Linked DNA regions of Homo sapiens: region 2 is linked to region 1. The links come from fine-mapping of genetic effects on plasma protein levels. Region 1 holds a variant in brackets. A gene starts in the other region. All regions are shown on their reverse strands. Region 1 has its middle 13 kb from the start of CD320. Region 2 holds the start of TCN2 (transcobalamin 2).

What was found. PIP is the posterior inclusion probability: the model's chance that the variant is causal. Protein levels are from antibody-based Olink assays in UK Biobank. Linkage for the fine-mapping came from a reference panel and not from the study's own genotypes, which makes the PIPs less certain.
Region 2: TCN2 starts here. The variant in region 1 is fine-mapped to the plasma level of the TCN2 protein (UK Biobank, PIP above 0.99).

Annotation. Positions count from the first base shown.
Region 1 is chr19:8,289,072-8,301,097 of GRCh38, reverse strand. No RefSeq gene overlaps it. Among named protein-coding and RNA genes, the nearest start is that of CD320, 13 kb to the left of the region's middle. RefSeq lists a silencer at 6,326-6,526. The variant A/T (reference allele first, on the strand shown) is at 4,112.
Region 2 is chr22:30,595,541-30,607,371 of GRCh38, reverse strand. It overlaps TCN2 (transcobalamin 2), which reads right to left and starts at 198. Exons shown (of 9, transcript NM_000355.4): 1 at 1-198. The coding sequence starts at 40. It also overlaps a transcript of PES1 not described here. RefSeq lists enhancers at 36-330, 1-412.

The DNA of each region.
Region 1 (12,026 bases):
GCCGTGATCAGGCCACTGCATTCCAGCCTGCGTGTCACAGCAAGACTGTCTCAAAAAACAAACAAAAACAAGTAATGTACTTGAATCATCCTGAAACCATCCCCACCCCTGGTCCGTGGAAAAATTGTCTTCCATGAAACCAGTCCCTGCTGCCAAAAAGGTTGGTGACCGGTAAAGTTAATTCACACCCTGACTTCTGGGTGACAGGGCAAAGTTCCTCCCTTATCCTCAGCTTCTGAATCTCTGAATGGGATGTTGGGGGCCACAGTAGCCTCCTTGCAGGGGAGTGACCTCCCTGGGACCGTTAGAGATGGACTCAGATGGACCTGTTGCCCAGGTTGGAGTGCAGTAGTGTGATCACAGCTCACTGCAGCCTTGAACTGGGATCAAGAGATCTGCCTGGGCTGGGCACGGTGGCTCATGCCTGTAATCCCAGCACTTTGGGAGGCCAAGGTGGGCGGATCACCTGAGGTGAGGAGTTCGAGACCAGCCTGGCCAACATGGTGAAACCACATCTCTACTAAAAATAGAAATATTAGCCGGGTGTGGTGGCAGGCGCCTGTAATCCCAGCTACTTGGGAGGCTGAGGCAAGAGAATTGCTTGAACCTGGGAGGCAGAGGTTGCAGAGAGCCAAGATCCTGCCATTGCACTCCAGCCTGGGTGACAAGAGCAAGACTCCATCTCAAAAAAAAGAAAAATCCTCCTGCCTCAGTCTCCCGAGTTTTGGGATTACAGTCACATGTATCACACCCAGCTAATTTTTTATTTTTGTAAAGTCAGGGTTGGTCTATGTTGCCCAGGCTGGCCTCCAACACCTGATCTCAAGGAATTCTCCCACCTCGGCCCCCCACAGCGTTGGGATTACAGGTGTGAGCCACTGCATCCAGCCAGGTTTTTTCTCTAACGTTTTCTCTGTCACGAGTCAGCCTCGGCGGACAACAGGGTATGTCAGGGATATGTGTGCCCGGCTGTGAGGCTGGTGTGGGTGCCACATGCCACCTAAGTGGACCTCTAGGCTCTGGACCGTCCTGACTGTCATGCATTCTTGTTCTCAGTGGAGCAAACCGCCCCATGCCCACTGGCTCCAAACACCTGTTGTCGCATCCTCTCTCCTGGCTCTGGGCTGACCAGGCTCACTGGGGGTTCATTTGTTCCATGTGACAGTGGCTGCCATCATCTGGGGGCCAGGCTGGCTGGATGTCCCATCCAGAAGGTCTGTCATGTCTGGGATAGCTGACCTCTCCATGTGGCCTCTCCACGTGGACTCCTGAGCAAGGTGGCCACACTCCTGCCACGGTGACTTGGGGTTCCCCAACACACAAAGCAGAGAGACTGCTGGGTCAATGTTGCCGATGCTGTATTCTGTGGATTCAGTGGAGTCCAGGTCAGCCCAGATCCTGTGTGTGTGTGTGTGTGTGTGTGTGTGTGTGTGTGTGTGTGTGTGAGTGGGGGGAACACATAAGGGCCTGAACACCCTTTTGAGACTATCTCAAAAACATTATTTATTTATTTATTTATTTATTTATTTATTTTTGAGACGGAGCCTTGCTCTGTCTACCTGGCTGGAGTGCAGTGGTGCAATCTCGGCTCACTGCAACCTCTGCCTCCCGGGTTCAAGCGATTCTCCCGTCTCAGCCTCCTGAGTACCTGGGACTACAGGCCTGCACTAACACATCAGGCGAATTTGTTTTCTATTTGTAGTAGACACGGGGTTTCACCATGTTGGCCAGACTGGTCTCGAACTCCTGACCTCAGGCAATCCGCTCACCTCGGCCTTCCAAAGTACTGGGATTACAGGCGTGAGCCACAGTGCCTGGCCAAAAAAAACTTTTTTTATTTTTCTTTTTTTAAAGTCTCCCTCCTCCCCCTCGCCTTTTTTTTTTTTTTTTTTTTTTTTTTTTTTTTTTTTTGGTGGAGTTTCCCTCTTGTTGCCCAGGCTGGAGTGCAATGGCTCCATCTCGGCAAACTTTGCCTCCTGGGTTCAAGTGATTCTCCTGCCTCAGCCTCCCGAGTAGCTGGGATTATAGGCATGTGCCATCATGCCTGGCTAATTTTTTGTATTTTTAGTAGAGATGGGGCTTCTCCATGTTGGTCAGGCTGGTCTCAAACTCCCGACCTCAGGTGATTTGCCTGCCTTGGCCTCCCAAAGTGCAGGGGTTACAGGCGTGAAACACCACGCCCGCCCCCCTCCCCTCTGCCTTTTTTTTTTTTTTTTTTTTTTTTTAGAGATGAGGTCTTTCTACGTTGCCCAGGCTGGTCTCTTAACTCCTCAGCTCAAGTGATCCTCCCACCCTAGCCTCCCAAAGCACTGGGATCACAGGTGTGAGCCATGGTGTCCGCTGTTACCCACTCTTAAGGGGATTGTTTGAGACTAATGAGTCCTTTCTCTGCGGGTTGCCATTTGCACCAACAGAACAAGACCAGGTTCAGTAAAGCAAGATAGAAACTTTATTCGTCAATCAATGAATGGAGAAAGGGAGGAACTCCTGCTCAAAGTGCCTACTCCCTGCAGGTGTGATGAGGGGAGTTTTAAAGTTTCCTAGGGCATGTAGATGCAGACTGGGGGTGGGGATTCCTGGAAAGAGGTGGGGCTTTCTAGGGGGCACTGAAGTGTTCAGCCTTTCTTTTCTTTTGTACCTGGCATTATATGTGCTTAGCAAAGTGCACCTCTCCCCACTGAAGACTTTTTTTTTTTGGTTTTTCTGTTTTTGAGACAGAGTCTCGATCAGTCACCCAGGCTGGAGTGCAGTGGGGCGATCTCAGCTCACTGCCACCTCCGCCTCCCAGGTTCAAGCAATTCTCCTGCCTTAGCCTCCTGAGTAGCTGGGATTATAGGTGTGACCCACCGCACCCAGCTTTTTTTTTTTTTTTTTGAAACAGCACCTCACTCTGTTGCTCAGGCTGAAGTACAGTGGTGCGATCGTAGCTCACTGCAGCCTCGACCTTCTGAGCTCAAGCAATCCTCCTGCCTCAGCTTCCCAAGTAGGTGGGACTACAGGCATGCATCACCACGCCCGGCTAATTTTTACATTATTTTTTGTAGAGAGAGGGTCTTTTTTTTTTTTTTTCTGAGACTGAGTCTCGCTGTGTCGCTCAGGCTGGAGTGCAGTGGCACAATCTCAGCTCACTGCAACTTCTGACTCTCGGGTTCAAGCAATTCTCCTGCCTCAGCCTCCTGAGTAGTACAGGCGCGTGCCACCACACCCGGCTAATTTTTTTTTTTTTTGTATTTTTAGTAGAGACAGGGTTTCACCATGTTGGCCAGGGTGGTCTCAAACTCCTGACCTCGTGATCTGCCCACCTTGGCCTCCTGAAGTGCTGGGATTACAGGCCAAGAGAGGGTCTTACCATGTTGCCCAGGGTGGTCTTGAACTCTCTGACTTAAGCAATCCTCCCTCCTCACACTCCCAAAATGCTGGGATGACAGCTTGGAGCCATTGTGCCCTGGCTGTGGAGATTTTACTCTGCCCATGGAGTGAGGATTCAGGCAGATGGAGCACTGCTGAGGTCAGCTCTCATCTTGTGGCTCAGTTGTGGTTAATGGCATCCGGCCTTCATGCCTGTAAACTAGCACAGCTGTGAGCAGGGGTTAATTTCTTTTTTTTTGAGACAGAGTCTCGCCCTGTTGCCCAGGCTGGAGTGCAATGGTGTGATCTCGGCTCACTGCAACCTCTGCCTCCCAGGTTCAAGCATTTCTCCTGCCTCAGCCTCCTAAATAGCTAGGATTACAGGCACACACCACCATGCCTGGCTACTTTTTTGTATCTTTAGTAGACACCAGGTTTCACCATGTTGGCCAGGCTGGTCTCGATGTCCTGACCTCGTGATCCACCCGCCTCAGCCTCCCAAAGTGCTGGGATTACAGGTGTGAGCCACCATGCCCGGCCAGAGCAGAGATTAATTTCACAGGTTCTGGGGCTCCCTAAAAGAATGGATGTTATAGTCCGGGTGTGGTGGCTTACGCCTGTAATCTCAGCACTTTGGGAGGCTGAGGTGTGGGGGATCACTTGAAGTCAGGAGTTTGAGACCAGCCGCCTTTCTCACCCTCCCAAAGTGCTTGGATGACAGCTGGGAGCCAGTGCACCCTGGCTGTGGAGATTTTATTATGCC[A/T]GTGGAGTGAGGAATCAGGCCTATGGAGCACTGCTGAGGTCAGCTCTCATCTTGTGGCTCATTTGTGGTTATTGGCACTTGGCCTTTGTTCCTGTAAGCTAGCACAGCTGTGAGCAGCGGTTAATTTCTTTTTTTTTTTTTTTGAGACAGAGTCTTGCTCTGCCACCAGGCTGGAGTACAGTGGCGCGATCTCGGCTCACTGCAACCTCCGCCTCCCGGGTTCAAGTCATTTTCCTGCCTCAGCCTCCCAAGTAGCTGGGATTACAGGCGCTCACCACCACGCCCAGCTAATTTTTGTATTTTTAGTAGAGACAGAGTTTCACTATGTTGGCCAGGCTAGTCTCGAACTCTTGACCTCAGGTGATCCACCCACCTTGGCCTCCCAAAGTGCTGGGATTACAGGCGTGAGCCACCATGCCAGGCCGGATACAGGGTCTTTAAAGGGGTGATTAAGGCCAGGTGTGGTGGCTCACACTTGTCATCCCAGAACTTCAGGAGGCTGAGGTGGGTGGATTGCACAAGGCCAGCAGTTTGAAACCAGCCTGGGCAACATAGGGAGAGCCTGCCTCTACTAAAAATACAAAAAATTAGCTCGGTGTGGTGGTGCACACTTGAATCCCAGCTACTCAGGAGGCTGAGGCACGAGAAATACTTGAGAACAGGAGGCAGAGGTTGTAGTGAGCCAAAGATCCCACCACTGCACTCCAGCCTGGGCAAAAGAGTGAGAGTCTGTTTCAAAAAAAAAAAAAAAAAGCCTAAGTGTGGTGGCTCACGCCTGTAATCCCAGCACTTTGGGAGGCTGAGGCAGGTGGATCACCTGAGGTCGGGAGTTCAAGACCAGCTTGACCAACATAGTGAAACCCGTCTCTACTAAAAATACAAAATTAGGTGGGCATGGTGACACATGCCTGTAATCCCAGCTACTTGGGAGGCTGAGGCAGGAGACTTGCTTGAATCTGAGAGGCGGAGGTTGCAGTGAGCCGAGATTGTACCATTGCACTCCAGCCTGGGCAACAAGAGGGAAACTCCGTCTCAAAAAGAAGAAAAGAAAAAAAATTTTTTTAATTAGCAGGACTTGGTGGTGTGCACCCGTGGTCCCAGCTACTCAGGAGGCTGAGGTGGGAAGATTGCTTGATTCCAGGAGGCTGCACTGAGCTGTTAGCGCCACTACACTCCAGCCTGGGAGACAAAGCAAGGCCCTGTCTCAAAAAAAAAAAAAAAAAAAAAAAAAAAGCAGCTGCTGAGAGGTGACAGCGTGCTGGCAGCCCTCGCTTGCTCTCGGTGCCTCCTGGGCCTCCGCGTCCACTCTGGCCGCGCTTGAGGAGCTCTTCAGCCCACCACCGCACTGTGGGAGTCCCTCTCTGGGCTGGCCGAGGCTGGAGCCAGCTCCTTCTGCTTGCTAAAGGTGTGGAGGGAGAGGCGCGGGCGGGAACCCGGGCTGTGCGCAAGGGGCTCGTGGGACAGCGCGAGTTCCGGGTGGGCGTGGGCCCCCGCACTCAGAGCGGACAGCCGGTGCCACCGGCCCCAGGCAGTTGAGGGGCTTAGCACCCGGGCCAGCAGCTGTGGAGGGTGTGCCGGGTCCCCCAGCAGTGCCGGCCCGCCAGCGCTGCACTCGAATTCTCGCGGGGCTTCAGCTGCCTCCCGGCTGGGCAGGGCTCAGGACCTGCAGCCCCCCATGCCTGAGGCTTCCCCCTGCCCTGGGCTCCTGCTCCGCCCGAGCCTCCCTCATGAGCGCCACCCACTGCTCCACGACGCCTGGTCCCATCGACTGCCCAAGCCAAGAGGGCTGAGGAGTCCAGGCGTGTGGCAAGGGACTGGTGGGCAGCTCTACCTCTGACCCCCTGCGGGTTCCACTGCCTGAAGCCAGCTGGGCTCCTGAGTCTAGTGGGGACTTGGAGAGCCTTTATGTCTAGCTGAGGGATTGTAAATGCATCAATCAGCACCCTGTGTCTAGCTCAGGGTTTGTAATTGCACCAATCAGCACTCTGTATCTAGCTAATCTGGTGGGGACTTGGAGAACCTTTATGTCTGGCTAAGGGATTGTAAATACACCAATCAGCACTCTGTGTCTAGCTCAAGGTTTGTAAATACACCAGTCAGCACCCTGTGTCTAGCTCAAGGTTTGTAAATGCACCAATCAGTGCTCTGTGGGGACTTGGAGAACTTTTGTGTCTAGCTCGGGGATTGTAAACACACCAATCAGCACCCTGTCAAAATGGGCCAATCAGCTCTCTGTAAAACAGACCGGTCAGCTCTCTGTAAAATGGACCAATCAGCAGGATGTGGGTGGGGCCAGATAAGGGAATAAAAGCAGGTTGCCCCAGCTAGCAGTGGCAACTTGGGTTGTCTTTCATGCTGTGGTTGCTTTGTTCTTTTTCTCTTTGCAATAAGTCTTACTGCTGCTCGCTGTTTGGGTCCACACTGCCTTTATGAGCTGTAACACTCACTGCAAAAGGTCTGTAGCTACACTCCTGAGCCGGAAAGACCACGAACCCACCAGAAGGAGGAAACTACGAACACATCCGAACATCAGAAGGAACAAACTGTGGACACGCTGCCTTTAAGAACTGTAACATTCACCGCGAGGGTCTGTGGCTTCATTCTTGAAGTCAGTGAGACCAAGACCCCACCAATTCTGGATACACTGCTACATCGGGTCCTCATCCAATCTGCCTGGTGTCCCTACAAGAAGAAGAAATATGGACACTAAGAAATACGAAGGGTGCATGCAGAGAAGAGAGCATGTGAGGGCACACAGGAGGCGGCCGCGGCTCTGTAAGACAAAGCAAGGGGGCTCAGTAGAAACCAGCTCTGGGCCGGGTGCGGTGGCTCACGCATGTAATCCCAGGCGTGATCATTTGAGGTCAGGATTTAGAGACCATCCCGGAAATACGGCAAAACCCCATCTCTACTAAAAATAGAAAAATTAGCCGGGCGTGGTGGTGGGCGCCTGTAATCCCAGCTACTCGAGAAGCTGAGGGACGAGAATTGCTTGAACCTGGGGCTACTCTGGAAGCTGAGGCACGAGAATTGCTTGAATCTGGGAGGTGGAGGTTGCAGTGCAACCAAGATGGTGCCACTGCACTCCAGCCTAGGTAGCAGAGCAAGACTCCGTTTCAAAAATGAAAAGCAGAAACCAACCCTGATGACATCTTAATCTTGGACGTCAGCCTCCAGAAATGTAAGTTTCTGTTTTTAACCTACCCAAGCTGTGGTATTTTGTTATGGCCACCCTAGCAAACTGAAGCTAGTATGATAGCTCAGAAACTCTTTTTTTCATTTTTTTCTTCCTTAGAGACAGGGTCTTGCTTTGGCTCCCAAGCTGGAGTACGGTGGTGCAGTTATAGAATTATAGCTCACTGTAGCCTCAACCTCCCAGGCTTAAGAGATCTTCCCGCCTCAGCCTCCTGATTAGCTGGGACTACAGGTCTGCGCCACTGTGCCCAGCTAATTTAAAACAAAACAAAAAAATGTTTCATACAGATTGGTCAACATGGCCAGACCCCGACTGGTAAAAGCTGGTTAAAAAAGATACTTGTTGATGGTCAGGTGCAGCGGCTCACACTTGTTATCCAAGCACTCTGGGAGGCTGAGGCATGAGGACTGTTTGAACCCAGGTGTTGGAGATCAGCCTGGGCAATATAGTGAGATCTCATTTATACTAAAAAACAAACAAAAAAAATAGCTGGGCATGGTGGCACATACCTGAAGTTTCTGTAGTTGCAGCTACTTAGGAGGCTGAGGTGGGAGGATTGCTTGAGCCTGGGAGATGGAGGCTACAGTGAGCTATGATCACCCATTGCACTCCAGCCTGGGCAATGGAGCAAGATCCTGTCTCTAGAAAACAACAATAAAATATATCTGTTGAATGCTACTATGTATCAGTGCTGTTCCTGGTTCTAACCATGAACAAAATAGCCCTGAAAAAATAGGGCTGAGCCCGGTGGCTCACATTTGTAATCTCAGGACTTTGGGAGATCAAGGCAGGTGGATCGCCTGAGGACTGGAGTTCGAGACCAGCCTGGACAACATGGCAAAACCCCATCTCTACTAAAATAAATTAGCAGCTGGGTGCACTGGTTCATGCCTGTAGTCCCAGCACTTTGGGAGGCTGAGGTGGGCAGATCACCTGAGGTCAGGAGTTCTAGACCATCCTGGCCAACATGGTGAAACCCTGTCTCTCCTAAAAATACAAAAATTAGCTGGGTGTGGTGGCAGGCGCCTGTAATCCCAGCTACTTGGGAGACTGATGCTAGAGAACTGCTTGAACCCAGGAGGCAGAGGTTGCAGTGAGCCGAGATCTTGTCATTGTACTCCAGCCTGGGTAACAAGAGGGAAACTGTCTTTAAAAAAAAAAAAAAAAAAAATTAGCTGGATGTGGTGTAGTGCATGCCTGTAATCCTAGCTACTCAGGAGGCTGAGGCAGAAGAATTGCTTGAACCTGGGAGGCAGAGGCTGCAGTGAGCCGAAATCCGCCAATGCACTCCAGCCTGGGTGACAGCAAGTTCCTGTCTCAAAAAAAAAAAAAAAAAAAAAAAAAAGCTGGTGCGGAGATTCACTCCTGTAATCCCAGCACTTTGAGAGGTCGAGACCAGCCTGGCCAACATGGTCGAACCCGGTCTACTAAAAGTACAAAACTAGCCAGGCATGGTGGTGCATGCCTGTAATTCCAGCTACTCAGGAGGCTGAGGCAGGAGAATCGCTTGAACCTGGGAGGCAAGAGGCTGCAGTGAGCCGAGGTCATGCCATTGTACTCCAGCCAGGGCGACAGAGCGAGACTCTGTCTCAAAAGAAAACGAAAGAGCTGGGCGTGGTGGTTCACGCCTGTAATTCCAGCACTTTGGGAGGCTGAGGTGGGTGGGTCACCTGAGGTCAGGAGTTCGAGACCAGCCTGACCAACATAGTGAAACCCCGTCTTTACTAAAAATACAAAAAATTAGCCGGGCGTGGTGGCAGACACCTGTAATCCCAGTTACTAGGGAGGCTGAGGCAGGAGAATCGCTTGAACCCGGGAGGCGGAGGTTGCAGTGAGCCAAGATTGCACCATTGCACTCCAGCCTGGGCAACAAGAGCAAAACTCTGTCTCAAAAAAAAAAAAAAAAAAAAAAAGAGAAGGTGTTTCTGGTTGCAGTGGGGAGAACAGAACCTGCAGGGAGACCAGGGAGGGGACAACTGCACTGATCCCCAGAAGTCAGGAAGGGGCTGGACCTAGCTGGCAAGTGCAGGTGGTCAGTGATAACTGGCTTCTAGGTCTGTTTTGAAGGAAAAGGCGATGGGGGCTGTAGGATTGGCAGACACATTGGATGCAGGTGGGAGGAGGCGTGGATGCCTCAGAACTGTCAGAGCAGAGCCTGGGAAGATGGTGCTAACTGAGAGGGAGAGGACGCTCGGACAAGGCTTGGGTGGGAAACCCCTAGGAGTCCAGATTGGGACCTGCAACACTGGAGCGGCCTGCGAGGACCCCTTGTGGCAGAGGCTGAGAAGGCACTGGACCCTAGGGTTTGGGCTAGAATGATGAATTTGGGAATTGGCCCAGTTGGGCGTCTGTGGGCTGGAGAGGAGTGAATGCAGCCAAACCTTAGATGTTTTGGAGCTAAGGAAGAATCAGAAAACAGATGAAAAGTTGGGTGCGGTGGCTCACGCCTGTAATCCCAACACTTTGGGAGGTTGAAGCGGGCAGATCCCTTGAGGTCAGGAGTTCAAGACCACCCTGGCCAACATGGTGAAACCCGGTCTCTTGTAAAAATGAAAAATTTAGCCGGGTGTGGTGGCGGGTGCCTGTAATCCCAGCTACACGGGTGGCTGAGGCAGGAGAATCGCTTGAACCTGGGAGAAGGTTGCAGTGAGCAGAGATCATGCCACTGCACTCCAACCTGGGCAACAGAGCAATATTCTGTACAAAAAACAAAACAAAATGAAAAAGAGATGGAAGCGGGGCATGGTGGCTCACATGTTTAATCCTAGCTAGTTGGGAGGCTGAGATGGGAGGATTGCTTGAGTCCCGGAGGTCAAGGCTGGAGTGAGCTATTATTGTACCACTGTGCTCCAGCCAGGGCAACAGAGTGAGACCCTGCTGTATCTTAAAAAGGAAAAAGGGTTGGGCGTGATGGTTCACGCCTGTAATCCCAGCACTTTGAGACGCCAAGGTGGGTGGATGACTTCAGCCCGAAAATTTGAGACCAGCCTGGGAACATAGTGAGACCTCATCTCTACAAGAAATACAAAAATTATTTGGGTGTGGTGGTGCCTGCCTGTAGTCCCAGCTACTCAGGAGGCTGAACTAGGTGGAATGCTTGAGGCCAGAAGGTTGAGGCTGCAGTGAGCCCTGATCTTGCCACTGCACTCCAACCTGGGCAGCAGAGCAAGATACTAACTCGAGAAAAAAAAAAAAACTCATAGATTAAAGTTCATAGCAGCAGGTCCGGCAGCAAAAATTCACCTCTGTTCTCTTAGGATCCCTCTAGGCCTGAGAATTATTAAGTTGACATAAAATGGGTTAACAGGCAGGGCGTGGTGGCTCACGCCTGTAATTCCAGCACTTTTGGAGGCCAAGGCAGCTGGATCACCTGAGGTCGGGAGTTCGAGACCAGCCTGACCAACATGGTGAAACCCTGTCTCTACTAAAAATACAAAAATTAGCCAGGTGTCATGGTGGGCACCTGTAATCTCAGCTACTTGGGAGGCTGAGGCAGGAAATTGCTTGAACCCAGGAAGCGGAGGTTGTGGTGAGCCAAGATTGTACCACTGTACTCCAGCCTGGGCAACAAGAGGAAACTCCATCTCCCCCTACCAAAAAAAAAAAAATAGGGCCAGGCATGGCACAGTGGCTCACGCCTGTAATCCCAGCACTTTGGGAGGCCGAGGCGGGCAAATCACGAGGTCGACAAATCACGAGGTCAGGAGTTTGAGACCAGCCTGGCCAACATGGTGAAACCCCATCTCTACTAAAAATACAAAAAATTAGCTGGGCGTGCTGGCTGGTGCCTGTTATCCCAGCTACTCGGGAGGCTGAGGCAGGAGAATTGCTTGAACCCTGGAGGCGGAGGTCGCAGTGAGCTGAGATTGTGCCACTGTGTTCTAGCCCGGGTGACAGAGCAAGACTGTCTCAGAAAACAAAACAAACAAAAACAGGTTAACAGGAGAGGATACAGATTTACTTAATAGAAGTTTTGCATGGAATAGAAGCCCTCAGAAGAAAATGAATTTGAGAGGTCAAGGCAGGAGGATCCCTTGAGGCCAGGAGTTCAAGACCAGCCTAGGCAACATAGAAAGACCCTTTCTGTACAAAAAATACAAAAATTAGCAGGGTATGGTGGCGTGTGCCTGTAGTCCCAGCTACTCAGGAGGCTGAGGCGGGCGGTGGAGGTTGTGGTAAGCTGAGATCTAGTCACTACACTCCAGCCTGGGTGACAAAGACTCTGTCTGTCTGTGTCTCTCTCTCTCTCTCAAAAAAAGAAGGGTCTGGGCATGGTGGCTCATACCTGTAATCCCAGCACTTTGGGAAGCTGAAGCAGATGGATCACTTGAGGTCAGGAGTTTGAGACCAGCCTGGCCAACATAGCAAAACCCTGTCTCTACTAAAAATACAATAATTGGCCAGGTGTCGTGGCACGAGCCTGTGGTCCCAGCTACTTGAGAGGCTGAGGCAGGAGAATCGCTTGAACCTGGGAGGCAGAGGTTGCAGTGAGCCGAGATCGCGCCACTGCACTCCAGCCTGGGCAATACAGCGAGACTCAGTCTCAAAAAAAAAAAAAGGAAAAAAAACAAAGGTTAATTTTATGCCGTGTGAGTTTCACCTTAATAATAAAAACAAAGGAGGGAAAAATGCATCAACCTATTTGTGTGCTGATAGGAATGCTCCAGGGGTGCGGGGAGGTTGTTGAGGTAGGTGCTTGTCTAGGCCCATGAAGGGGTG
Region 2 (11,831 bases), not on the chromosome of region 1:
GGACCCCCAGAAGGAAGAGGAAGGCCCCAAGGTGCCTCATGGCAGCAGCAGGTGGGTGAGCAGTGAGCAAGAATCGGGAAAGACTCCTGGGGCTGGCCCTGCTGAGGCTCTCCTGACCACAGCTGGTCACCGCTCCGAGAGACGCAGCTTCCTGTCACTGATTAATCCTCCATGCCTGCAATGCACGGCTAAGTCTGCAGAGGGGTGGGGCGGGGGAAGGTCTGTGGTGGCGGGGAACATAAGGCCAAAGAACAGAGGAAGGAAGGGCAGAGCAGCCCTCCTGGAGGTAGGGAACAAAGGGAGGAGGAGGGCTAGTGGGACCATGTGAGACATCTTGAGGCCATTCACGTTCCTGCTTAAAGAGCCCGGGACCAGCGCAGAGGGCCTGATGCCTGATCTGTCAAGTCTGTCCGACCGTGCCTGTCTGCTGTCCCCCCAGCTGTTCCAGTGGTGGATTGGCAGGACCGGGTGCCTACCCGGTACTCCTTACCAAAGGAGCCCCTGGTAGTGCCCACCTAGCCCAGGACAAGGAGTGGAACGGGAGCTGCAGCTGCAGTGGTCACGTGAGCAGCATTGCTGGAGTCAGCTGTTTTTCAGCACCGCCTCCCTCAGTTGTGGCGGGAGGGGATTGTGGGGGTGGGGGAGTTGGGCAGTTGGGGAGGGGGAGTTGGGCAGTTCGGTGGGGGGGGGGAGTTGGGCAATTGAGGGGAGGGTGGGTGCCGCTGGCCCCAGACCAGCCAGGCCACTTTTCTCAACCAATCCGAAAGGGCTGGGAGCCTCCTGGAGAGGACAAAACAAAACAAGTTAAAGAATGGGATTAAGTCCGGGCACGGTGGCTCACACCTGTAATCCTAGCACTTTGAAAGGCTGAGGCGGGCAGATCACTTGAGCTCAGGAGTTGGAGACCAGCCTGGGCAACATGGGGAAACACTGTCTCTACAAAAACACAAAAAACACATACAAAAAACCATAAATTAGCCTGGCGTGGTGGCAGACGTCTGTAATCCCAGCTACTTGGGGGGCTGAGGCAGGAGGATCGCTTGAACCCAAGAGGTGGAGGCTACAGTGAGCCAAGATTACACCACTGCACTCCAGCTTGGGTGACAAAGTGAGACCCTGTCTCAAAAATAAAATAAAATAAAAAGAATGAGATTGAATCGAGACACAAAGCTACCAGAAGCAGGGGTACTTGCCAGAACTCGGAAAGTAACCTCAAAAAAAATCTCTGCAAACAGGGAAGAGAACAAAAGATTCCTCATCTGCCCAGCCCCACAGGAGAATCAATGTATACGAGTTAACTAGTGGTGGCTGTGTGACTTTGGCCAGGTCACTTAACCTCTCGAGTTTAAAATAGTTCTTCCTGTGTGAGAAGAGAGGGTTAGGCAAGATCATCCTAACAGTTCCCTTTCAGCTCAATTTGTGAAGACACTATGACCTTAAAATATCTCCAATCATTTCCATGCACAATCTGCATTGCAATTATTTTATGGTAAATTGCCAAGGTTCACTCTTTTAAGACAATCTTTTTGAGCCTGATTTATCACAAACCAAGCCCTTGACATAAATAAATACAGCAACGTGTGTCTGTTTACGGAACTACTTGAAAATTTTAAATGATAGGTTGTCCAGTCAGAAAGGCTGGATGTGGCCACTAGGAGGAGCACCCCTGGAGGTTCTGAGGAAGGAGGGAGGCCAGTGGGGAGCCCAACTTCCGCAGAACCGCACGTTTGGACCTTCAGGGGAGTCATGGTGAAGTGTGTGCAATGGAGCCACCTTGGTCCTGGGTGGGACTGCCTTGGCTCCCCCAACCCTCTGCCTGTTTCCAGTAACAACTATTATGATTCCTATTTCCAGGAAGGCAGCCTGGAGGAGGTGGCCATGGAGGATAGCCTTCGTTATCGTCAGCCTCTGGTGAGAAGCAGCAGCATCCTTCCAGAGAGTCACTTCTGATCCCCAAGGTAGTTAGGGTGTCGAAGTAAAGGAGGGAGACACCCCCCTGCCTACCTACCTGGACTCAGTGCTAGAGGGTGGGGGAGTAGGAATAGGAAGACAGCATATTTCCCATACATATTAGAAATACTGGTGGCTCATGCCTGTAATCCCAGCACTTTGGGAAGCCAAGGCAGGAGGATTGCTTGAGCCCACAAGTTTGAGACCAGTCTAGGCAAGATGGTGAGACCCTGATTCTAAAAAACAAACAAAACCAAAAAATGCCAGGGATGGTGGTGTGTGCCTGTAAGTCTCAGCTAATCTAGAGGCTACAAGTGGGAGGATCACTTGAGCCCAGGAGGCTGAGGTTGCAGTGAGCTGAGATCAGACCACTGCACTCCAGTCTGGGCGACAGAAGGAGACCCTGTCCTAAAAATAAAGTAAAATTAAAAAAAGAAATAGAGTGACTGGTCAGGGGTAGTGCTATTTCAGGTCATGTGGTCAGGGAATGTGAAAAACAAAAATGATTACATCATTTAGATCAGGATTTCTATTTTTTTTATTTTTGAACTCCTGGGCTCAAGCGATCCTCCTGTCTCAGCCTCCCAAAGAGCTGGGATTACAGGCATGAACCACTGCACCTGGCCAGATCAAGATTTCTATTTGTGGTGAAAACTAGCTTGGAATGAGAAAGTAAAAGTCTGCCTGTGCTCCCACTAGACTGGGATAACAGGGACCTCTAAAGCCAGCTGCAAGCCAGCTGCAACATCAACAGGAAACATTTCTTATTTTTTCTTATTTATTTATTTTTTTTGAGACAGGGTCTCACTCGTTGCCCAGGCTGGAGTGCAATGGCATGATCTCGGCTCACTACACCCTCCTCCCGGGTTCAAGCGATTCTCCTGCCTCAACCTCTTGAGTAGCTGACATCACAGGCATGCGCCACCACCCCCAGCTAATTTTTGTATTTTTAGTAGAGACAGGGTTTCACCCTGTTGGCCAGGTTGGTCTCGGACTCCTGACCTCAAGTGATCTGCCTGCCTCAGCCTCCCGAAGTATTGGGATTACAGGCATGAGCCAGCGCGCCTGGCCAACAGGAAACATTTCTATCAAGGCCATGCATGCTACAGCTATTTGGGTGACTACTACTTTTTTTACTGATTATTTATATTTTTCCCCCTAAAAGCACAAGCAATCAGAAATTTGCTGTTTGATATCCTATTAGTAAGAACAGAACATCCCACTGTTGCCTAAAAGAGCTATGTCATTTTGACACAGACAAGCAGTCTCAGATAAGGTGTTTCTGGACTCAGCATTCCACATTTTTCTTAACTTTGTAGTTTCCAAGGAAACAAGACTCTAGGTCCACTTTGCCGTCCAGACCTGAAGCGGACCCTTCATACACAGCCCTGTGATACTTGGAGCCTGCTTGCCTCAAAACACTGCTTGCTTTACACTTCACCTAACTCCACCCTTCCCTTCAATTCTTTAATAACCTTTCCCTTTGTTCAGCCAGATCACTATAGTTCCTCTGCTGGGTGGTTTCCCTCATTGGAATAAGTCAACAACTGGGTTTGTTTCTGGTGGTTTTAGGCTGACTTGGCGAGGACTAGCCTAAAAATTAACCCAAAAGAGAAAAATAAAATTGTATGCATGAAGATGGCATGAGAAGAATGAATATAACAAATACACAACTCTAGTTCTATATGAAATATCTATTTTAGTGATTAAAAGTGTATATATATTAAAATCATATTTTAAGGCCAGGCACAGTGGCTCACACCTGTAATCCCAGCACTTTGGGAGGCCGAGGCGGGTGGATCACCTGAGGTCAGGAGTTCGAGACCAGCCTGACCAACAGGGTGAAATCCAGTCTCTACTAAAAATACAAAAATTAGCCGGGCATGGTGGCATGTGCCTGTGGTCCCAGCTACTTGGGAGGTTGAGGCGGGAGAATTGCTTGAACCTGGGGGCCAGAGGTTGCAGTGAGCCAAGATCATGCCACTGCACTCCAGCCTGGGTGACAGAGCAAGACCCCATCTCGGAGAAACAAAAAACAAAAAACAAACAAAAACAGAAAGAAAGAAAAGGAGGAAGAGGAGGAGAAAGCAAAGATAAAATCATAAAAAAATCCCATCAACTAGAGCATTGGTTCCCAACTGTGGTCACTGGATGACTGGTAGTCTCCAAGAACCTTTTAGGGGGCCTGTGAGTTTAAAATTACTTTCAAGTGGCTGGGCGCAGTGGCTCATGCCTGAAATCCCAGCCCTTTGGGAGGCCGAGGTGGGTGGATCACCTGAGGTCAGGAGTTCGAGACCAGCCTGACCAACGTGGCGAAACCCAGTCTCTACTAAAAATACAAAAATTAGCTGCGCCTGGTGGTGGGCTCCTGTAGTCCCAGCTACTTGGGAGTCTGAGGCTGGAGAATTGCTTGAACCCAGGAGGTAGAGGTTGCAGTGAGCCAAGATTACGCCACTGCACTCCAGCCTGGACAACAGAGCGAGACTCCTTCTCACACACACACACACACAAATTGCTTTCAAGTTAAGATAAATAGCAAGACACTATTAGTGTAATAGTAAGACATTTCATCAAATGGTGCAGGAACAATTGGATGTCTATATGCAAAACAAATCAACCTAAACATACACCTTTCACAAAAAATTAACTTGAAATAGACCTAACTATGAAACACAAAACTATAAAACTTCAAGAAGAGGTGATGCCTTTTTAGATACAACACCTAAAGCATAGTCCATCAAAGAAATAATTGTCTGGGTGCAGTAACCTCAGCACTTTGGGAGGCCAAAGTGGCAGGATCACTTGAGGCCAGGAGTTTGAGACAAGCCTGGGCAACATAGTGAGCCCCTATCTTTATCAAAAGAAAAGAAAAAAAGGAAAAGAAAATAAAAGAAAAAAGAGGCCGGACATGGTGGTTCACACCTGTAATCGCAGCACGTTGGGAGGCCAAGGCGGGTGGAACTCTTGTGTCAAAAAAAAAAAAGTATTAGTTTTCACACTGCTATAAAGAAATACCTGCAATTCGGTAATTTATAAAGAGGTTTAATTGACTCACAGTTGTGCATGGCTGGGGAGGCCTCAGAAAACTTGCAATCGTGGCAGAAAGCAAAGGGGAAGCAAGCACCTTCTTCACAAGGTGGCAGTAGAGAGATTGAGAAAGTGCCACACTTAAAACCATAGCTCTTGTGAGAACTCCCTCTCTATCATGAGAACAGCATGGGGGAAACCACCTCCATGATCCAGTCACCTCCCACCAGGTGTCTCCCTCAAGTGGAAATTACAATTCAAGATGAGATTTGGGTGGGGACACAGAGCCAAACCACATCAGAAAAAAAAGAAAAGAAAAGAAGGGGCCAGGTGCGGTGGTTCACACCTGTAATCCCAGCACTTTGGGAGGCCGAGGCGGGTGGATCACAAGGTCAGGAGAACAAGACCAACCTGATCAACATGGTGAAACTCCGTCTCTACTAAAAATACAAAAATTAGCTGGGTGTGGTGGCACGTACCTGTAATCCCAGCTATTCGGGAGGCTGAGGCACGAGAATCACTTGAACCTGGGAAGCAGAGATTGTAGTGAGCTGAGATTGGGCCACTGCACTCCAGCCTGGGAAACAGAGCGAGACTGTGTCTGGAAAAAAAAAAAAAAAGTTCATAACTTTATTTGTAACTGCTAAAAACCGGAAGCAGCCAAGGTATCCTTCAATGAATGCATAAACAAATTGCGGTACATCTATACAATGAAATATTGCATATATAAAAACAGTGATAAAACTAAGTGAGCCATTAAGCCATAAAAAGACATGAATGAGGCTGGGCGCAGTGGCTTACGCCTGTAATCCCAGCACTTTGGGAGGCTGAGGCAGGCAGATCACTTGAGGGGCAAGAGTTTGAGACTAGCCTGGCCAACATAGTGAAACCCTGTCTGTATTAAAAATACAAAAATGAGCCAAACATGGTGGTTCACACCTGCAATCCCAGCTACTCGGGGCTGAGGCAGGAGAATCGCTGGAACCCAGGAGGCGAACGCTGCTGTGAGCTGAGATCGCACCACTGCACTCCAGCCTGGGCGACGGACTGAGACTCCATCTTAAAAAAAAAAAAATTAGATCAAATAATCGTTGGCAAAAAGCATTAAGAGAGATAAAGAGGATGTGTCAGATTGTGTTTTCAAAGCTGTCTAACAATACCAGCTGTTCCACATGGTTTTCTGTAATTTTGTCATTCATCCATGAAGAGATGAGTCTAATTCCCCTCCCTTTGAATCTAGGCAGGTTTGTGACATCCTTGTCAGTAGCAGAATGCAGAAGTGATGATATATAACTCGAGGTCAGAAAAGAAAATGCAACTTCCACCTTGCTCACTTGAACACTTGAGCTGGAGTACTGAGCTGTCATGTAAGCAGTACAACTGCCTTGAGGCAGCTACAAACTGATCCACAAAGGTAATCCACATGGATAAACCCTGAGATTACCTTAAGAGAGAGAGATCGATCCAGCCAGCTCCCAGCTTTCCATACCCCTACTATTCCAGCTTTTATCGCATAAAAGATGTCAAGACAGAACCATTTAATGGAGCCCATCCCCAATTTTTTTTTGTTTTGTTTTTGAGATGGAGTCTCGCGCTCTGTCACCCAGGCTGGAGTGCAGTGACGCGATCTCGGCTCACTGCAAGCTCTGCCTCCGGGTTCACGCCATTCTCCTGCCTCAGCCTCCTGAATAGCTGGGACTACAGGCGCCCGCCACCACTCCTGGCTAATTTTTTGTAGTTTTAGTAGAGACGGGGTTTCACCGTGTTAGCCAGGATGGTCTCCATCTCCTGACCTCGTGATCCACCGGCCTCGGCCTCCCAAAGTGCTGGGATTACAGGCATGAGCCACCACACCTGGCCTTATTTTTATATTTAATAGAGACAGGACCTCGCTTTTTTGCCCAGGCTGGTCTCGAACTCCCGAGTTCAAGCGATGCTCACACCTCAGCTTCCCAAAGTGTTGGGATTACAGGTGTGAACCACCACGCCTGGCCAAGAGTTCTTTATCTATGTTATATAAGACTGTTCTGCAGTGAGCAGCTACATGCAAACCTACCCCCTGAAGTCTGAAGGAGCCGAGAGGCTGAAGATAAAAAACCTGACAACCTCAACTTGACACTGCAACCTCCATCTCCCTGGCTCAAGCAATTCTTGCACCTCATCCTCCCAAGTAGCTGGGACTATAGGCTTGTGCCACCACACCTGGCTAATTTTTTTATGTTTTAGTAGAGATGGGGTTTTCACCATTTTGCCCAGGGTGGTCTCAAACTCCTGAGATCAGGCTATCTGCCTGTCTCTGCCTCCCAAAGTGCTGGGATTAAAGGCGTGAGCCACCTAGCCTGGCCCTGTAACGTATTTTTTAAATTGAAAATGACCCAGGCATTTAATGAGCAGTTATTTAATTTAACATAAATATTTTAAATTACATGACAATTGTATTTATAAGCATTTATCATATATATTCATTTATTTTTGCTTTCATTTTCTTTTTGTTTTGAGATGGAATTTCTCTTATTGCCCAGGCTGGAGTGCAATGGCTCAATCTCGGCTCACCGCAACCTCTGCCTGCCAGGTTCAAGCGATTCCCCCGCCTCAGCCTCCCGAGTAGCTGTGATTACAGGCATGTACCACCATGCCTGGCTAATTTTTGTATTTTTAGTAGAGACGGGGTTTCTCCATGTTGGTCAGGCTGGTCTTGATCTCCCAACCTCAGGTGATCCGCCCACCTCAGCCTCCCAAAGTGCTGGGATTACAGGCGTGAGCCACCGCGCCCAGCCTATATTTTTCACCATTGCCTTAGACTAGTTATGAGAACTGAGATATTAGACAAAGGTAATCATTAAATTTGTTATTTTTACAGCCTGTGACTATCAGATGTTCACCTAAGAATCTTAAAATACGTACTTATTTTGTTGATAACTCGGAAGATTTCGCTGTTTCCTATTAAACTAGTTATATTAAATTAGTCATATTTATCAAAAAATCACACACAAAGGTCATTTTGGTTTCGGCTGGGTTTATAGTTTTACAATCTTTATGCCAAACCCCCAACACCCTTAAAGTATCTAGCAGAGACACATGTAAAAAAACTTTGACCAATAAACCAAGGCAAAAATGTATGTTAACAATTTTGAAGACATTTTTATTTTACCAATAACTTTTAAAACCAGTTTATTTATTAAAGATTTACTTGAGTCAGGCCAGACGCTGTGACTCATGCCTGTAATCCCAGCACTTTGGGATGCTGAGGCAAGTGGATCACTTGTCAGGAGTTTGAGCCCAGCCTGGCCAACATAGTAAAAATCCCATCTCTAACTAAAAATACAAAAAGTAGCTGGTCATGGTGGCACATGCCTGTAACCCCAGCTACTCAGGAGGCTGAGATAGGAGAATCGCTTCGAACCCAGGAAACGGAGGTTGCAGTGAGCCAAGATCGCACCACTGCACTCTAGCCTGGATGACAGAGCAGGACTCCATCTCAAAAAAAAAAAAAAAAAAAAAAAAAAAAATTTTACTTAAGTCACATAAACTTGAAAAATATATTTGGGCTTTCTTAATTTACGAGTATTTATTTTTAAGTCAACTTGGTACCATGTAGACACAATATACAACATATGTAAACACATCTAACCACATATATACACAAATAAAAATCTTACAGCTTTAGGCCGGTTGTGGTGGTTCATGCCTGTAACCCTAACACTTTGGGAGGCCGAGGTGCGGGGGTCACTTAAGGTAAGGAGTTCAATACCAGCCTGGCCAGCATGGCAAAACCCAACTTCTACTAAAAATACAAAAATGAGCCAGGCGTGGTAGCAAACACCTTTAATCCCAGCTACTCAGGAACCTGAGGCACGAGAATCACCTAAACCCGGGAAGCAGAGGTTGCAGCGACCGGAGATTGTTACCACTGCACTCCAACCTACTAAACAGAGTGAAAAAATAATTTTTTTTTTTACGGGTTTTACCTTAGAGCTCTAATCCTGGCATAGTACTGTGTCCGGAATTGGTGGGTTCTTGGTCTCACTGACTTCAAGAATGAAGCTGCCAACCTTCAAGGTGAGTGTTACAGTTCTTAAAGACGGCATGTCCGGAGTTTGTTCCTTCTGATGCTCGGATGTTTTCGGAGTTTTTTTCCTTTTGGTGGGTTCGTGGTCTCGCTGGTTGCAGCAGTGAAGCCATAGACCTTCCCAGTGAGTGTTACAGCTTATAAACGCAGTGTACACCCAAAAAGTGAGCAGCAGTAAGAGTTATTGCAAACAGTGAAAGAATAAAACTTCAACTGCGATCGAGACCATCCCGGCTAAAACGGTGAAACCCCGTCTCTACTAAAAATACAAAAAACTAGCCGGGCGTAGTGGCGGGCGCCTGTAGTCCCAGCTACTTGGGAGGCTGAGGCAGGAGAATGGCGTGAACCCGGGAAGCGGAGCTTGCAGTGAGCCGAGATGCCGCCACTGCACTCCAGCCTGGGCGACAGAGTGAGACTCCGACTCAAAACAAAAAAAAAAAAAACAAAACTTCAACTGCGTGGAAAAAAAACCGAGCGAGTTACCACAGCTGAGTCGGGCAGCCTGCTTTTATTCTCTTATCTGGCCCCACCCACATACTGCTGATTGGTCCATTTTACAGAGAACGGATTGGTCTGTTTTACAGAGTGCTGATTGGTCCGTTTTGACAGGGTGCTGATTGGTGTGTTTACAATCCCTGTGCTAGACACAAAAGTTCTCCAGGACCCCACTAGATTAGCTAGATACAGAGTGCTAATTGGTGTATTTACAAACCCTGAGCTAGACACAGGGTGCTGATTGGTGCATTTACATACCTTGAGCTAGATATAGAGTGTCGATTGGTGTATTCACTATCCCTTAGCTAGACATAAATGTTCTCCAAGTCCCCACAAGATCAGCTAGACACAGAGCGCAGATTGGTGCATTTACAAAACTTGAGCTAGACACAGGGTGCTGATTGGTGTGTTTACGAACCTTGAGCTACATATAGAGTGCTGATTGGTGTATTTACAATCCCTTAGCTAGACATAAAGGTTCTCCAAATCCCCACTAGACTCAGGAGCCCAGCTGGCTTCACCTACTGGAGCTCATACTGGCAGGACAGGTGGAGCTGCCTGCCAGTCCTGCTCTCATGCTCCCGCACTCCTCAGCCCTTGGGCAGTTGATGTGACCGGGCGCTGGGGAGCAGGGGGCGGCGCTCGTTGGGGAGGCTTAGGCTGTGCCGGAGCCCACAGCGGCAGGGAGGAGACTCAGGCATGGCAGGCTGCAGGTCCTGAGCCCTGCCCCACGGGGAGGCAGCTAAGGTCCAGGGAGAAATTGAGCGCAGCGCCGGTGGGCCGGCACTGCTGGGGAACCTGGCGCACTCTCCGCAGCGGCTGGCCCGGTGCTAAGCCCCTCACTGCCCGTGGCCAGCGGGGCCGGCCGGCTGGCTTCTCCGAGTGCGGGCCCGCCAAGCTCACGCCCACCCTTAACTCTAGCTGGCCCGCAAGCGCCGCGCACAGCCCTGGTTCCTGCCCGTGCCTCTCCCTCCACACCTCCCCGCAGGCTGAGGGAGCCGGCTCCGGCCTCAGCCAGCCCAGAGAAGGGCTCCCACGGTGCAGCAGCGGGGCTGAAGGGCTCCTCAAGCGTGGCCAGAATGGGCGCCGAGGCCGAGGAGGCACTGAGAGCGAGCGAGGGCTGTGAGGGCTGCCAGCACGCATCATCTCTCAGTACTACAGAGTCATCGGTTTATAAAAGATGGTTGGGTCCAAATTATTTTTGACAAAACTGGAACTTGTTTACATGGCTAAACTTTATTTATCCTAATAGGTAATCTAATGGAGGCTGTGAACCAAAATTTTGGGTAGTTTCCATGGCAGTTTGATTTTTAAAATCTTTTTTTTTTTTTTTAAGTTTTAAATGGGGCCAGGCATGGTGGCTCATGCCTGTAATCCCAGCACTTTCAGAGGCTGAGGCAGGAGGACTGCTTGAGCCCAGACGTTGGAAACCAGCCTGGGCAACATAGCAAGACCCCATATCCATATACACACGCACACACACACACACACTTGAAAAAACAATGAGTTTAGGGTTAAATTTTTAATGCTTATATTTTAGCTGGAACCTGGCTGAACTATATAGAAAAAATCTCCAGGTAGCCTTGAATTAGTAACACTGTAAAGAGTTTTATCTCAACACCAGTAGAAAAGTCAACAGACTTAAAGCAGGTAGAAAAATAAAATAGAGAATGTAGAAGACTCTACATGTTAACTCTGTAACTGCAGGTTGACCATTTGAGCTCTGAATTTTCCTTGATGTAATTTGCCCACCAGTTTAAAAATGTGCACAAAAACGGGCTATAATATGTAGCCAGCTAGCGTCCCAAAAAAGCTAGCATGTCTTTGAACTTTCCATGTGGTTTTTAAACATGTAAGCCAAAGGGTTCCTGAAGGTGGTTGGCTAGAGACTGTCCCGTTAGTACTAAGCACCCCCTATAATTGCACTTCCCTTACCCAGGTGACCCTTTGAGAGTACTCTTAGCATAAGCACCCTCACAAAATCTACGAATCAGCTGAGTTTGACCGGATTACACCTCCACCCCTGCCGGTAAGCCCAGGGTCCACAAAATGTTCCCTCCGTGGTCTGAATGGAGGGAATCAGGGAGGCCACCTTTAAACCCAGGGTTGACAAAGACATTCCTTGCAGGGTCTGGATGCAGGGAACTGGGACCAGGCACTGGGAAGGACTGGGAAGGCCCCTGCCAATGCAGGGCTGACAGGGGAAGGTTCCCTCCAGGGTCCACCAATGATGGGAACCCAGCTGGGAAGAAATAAAGTCTCCAAGATCTTTTTTTTTTTTTTTTTTTTT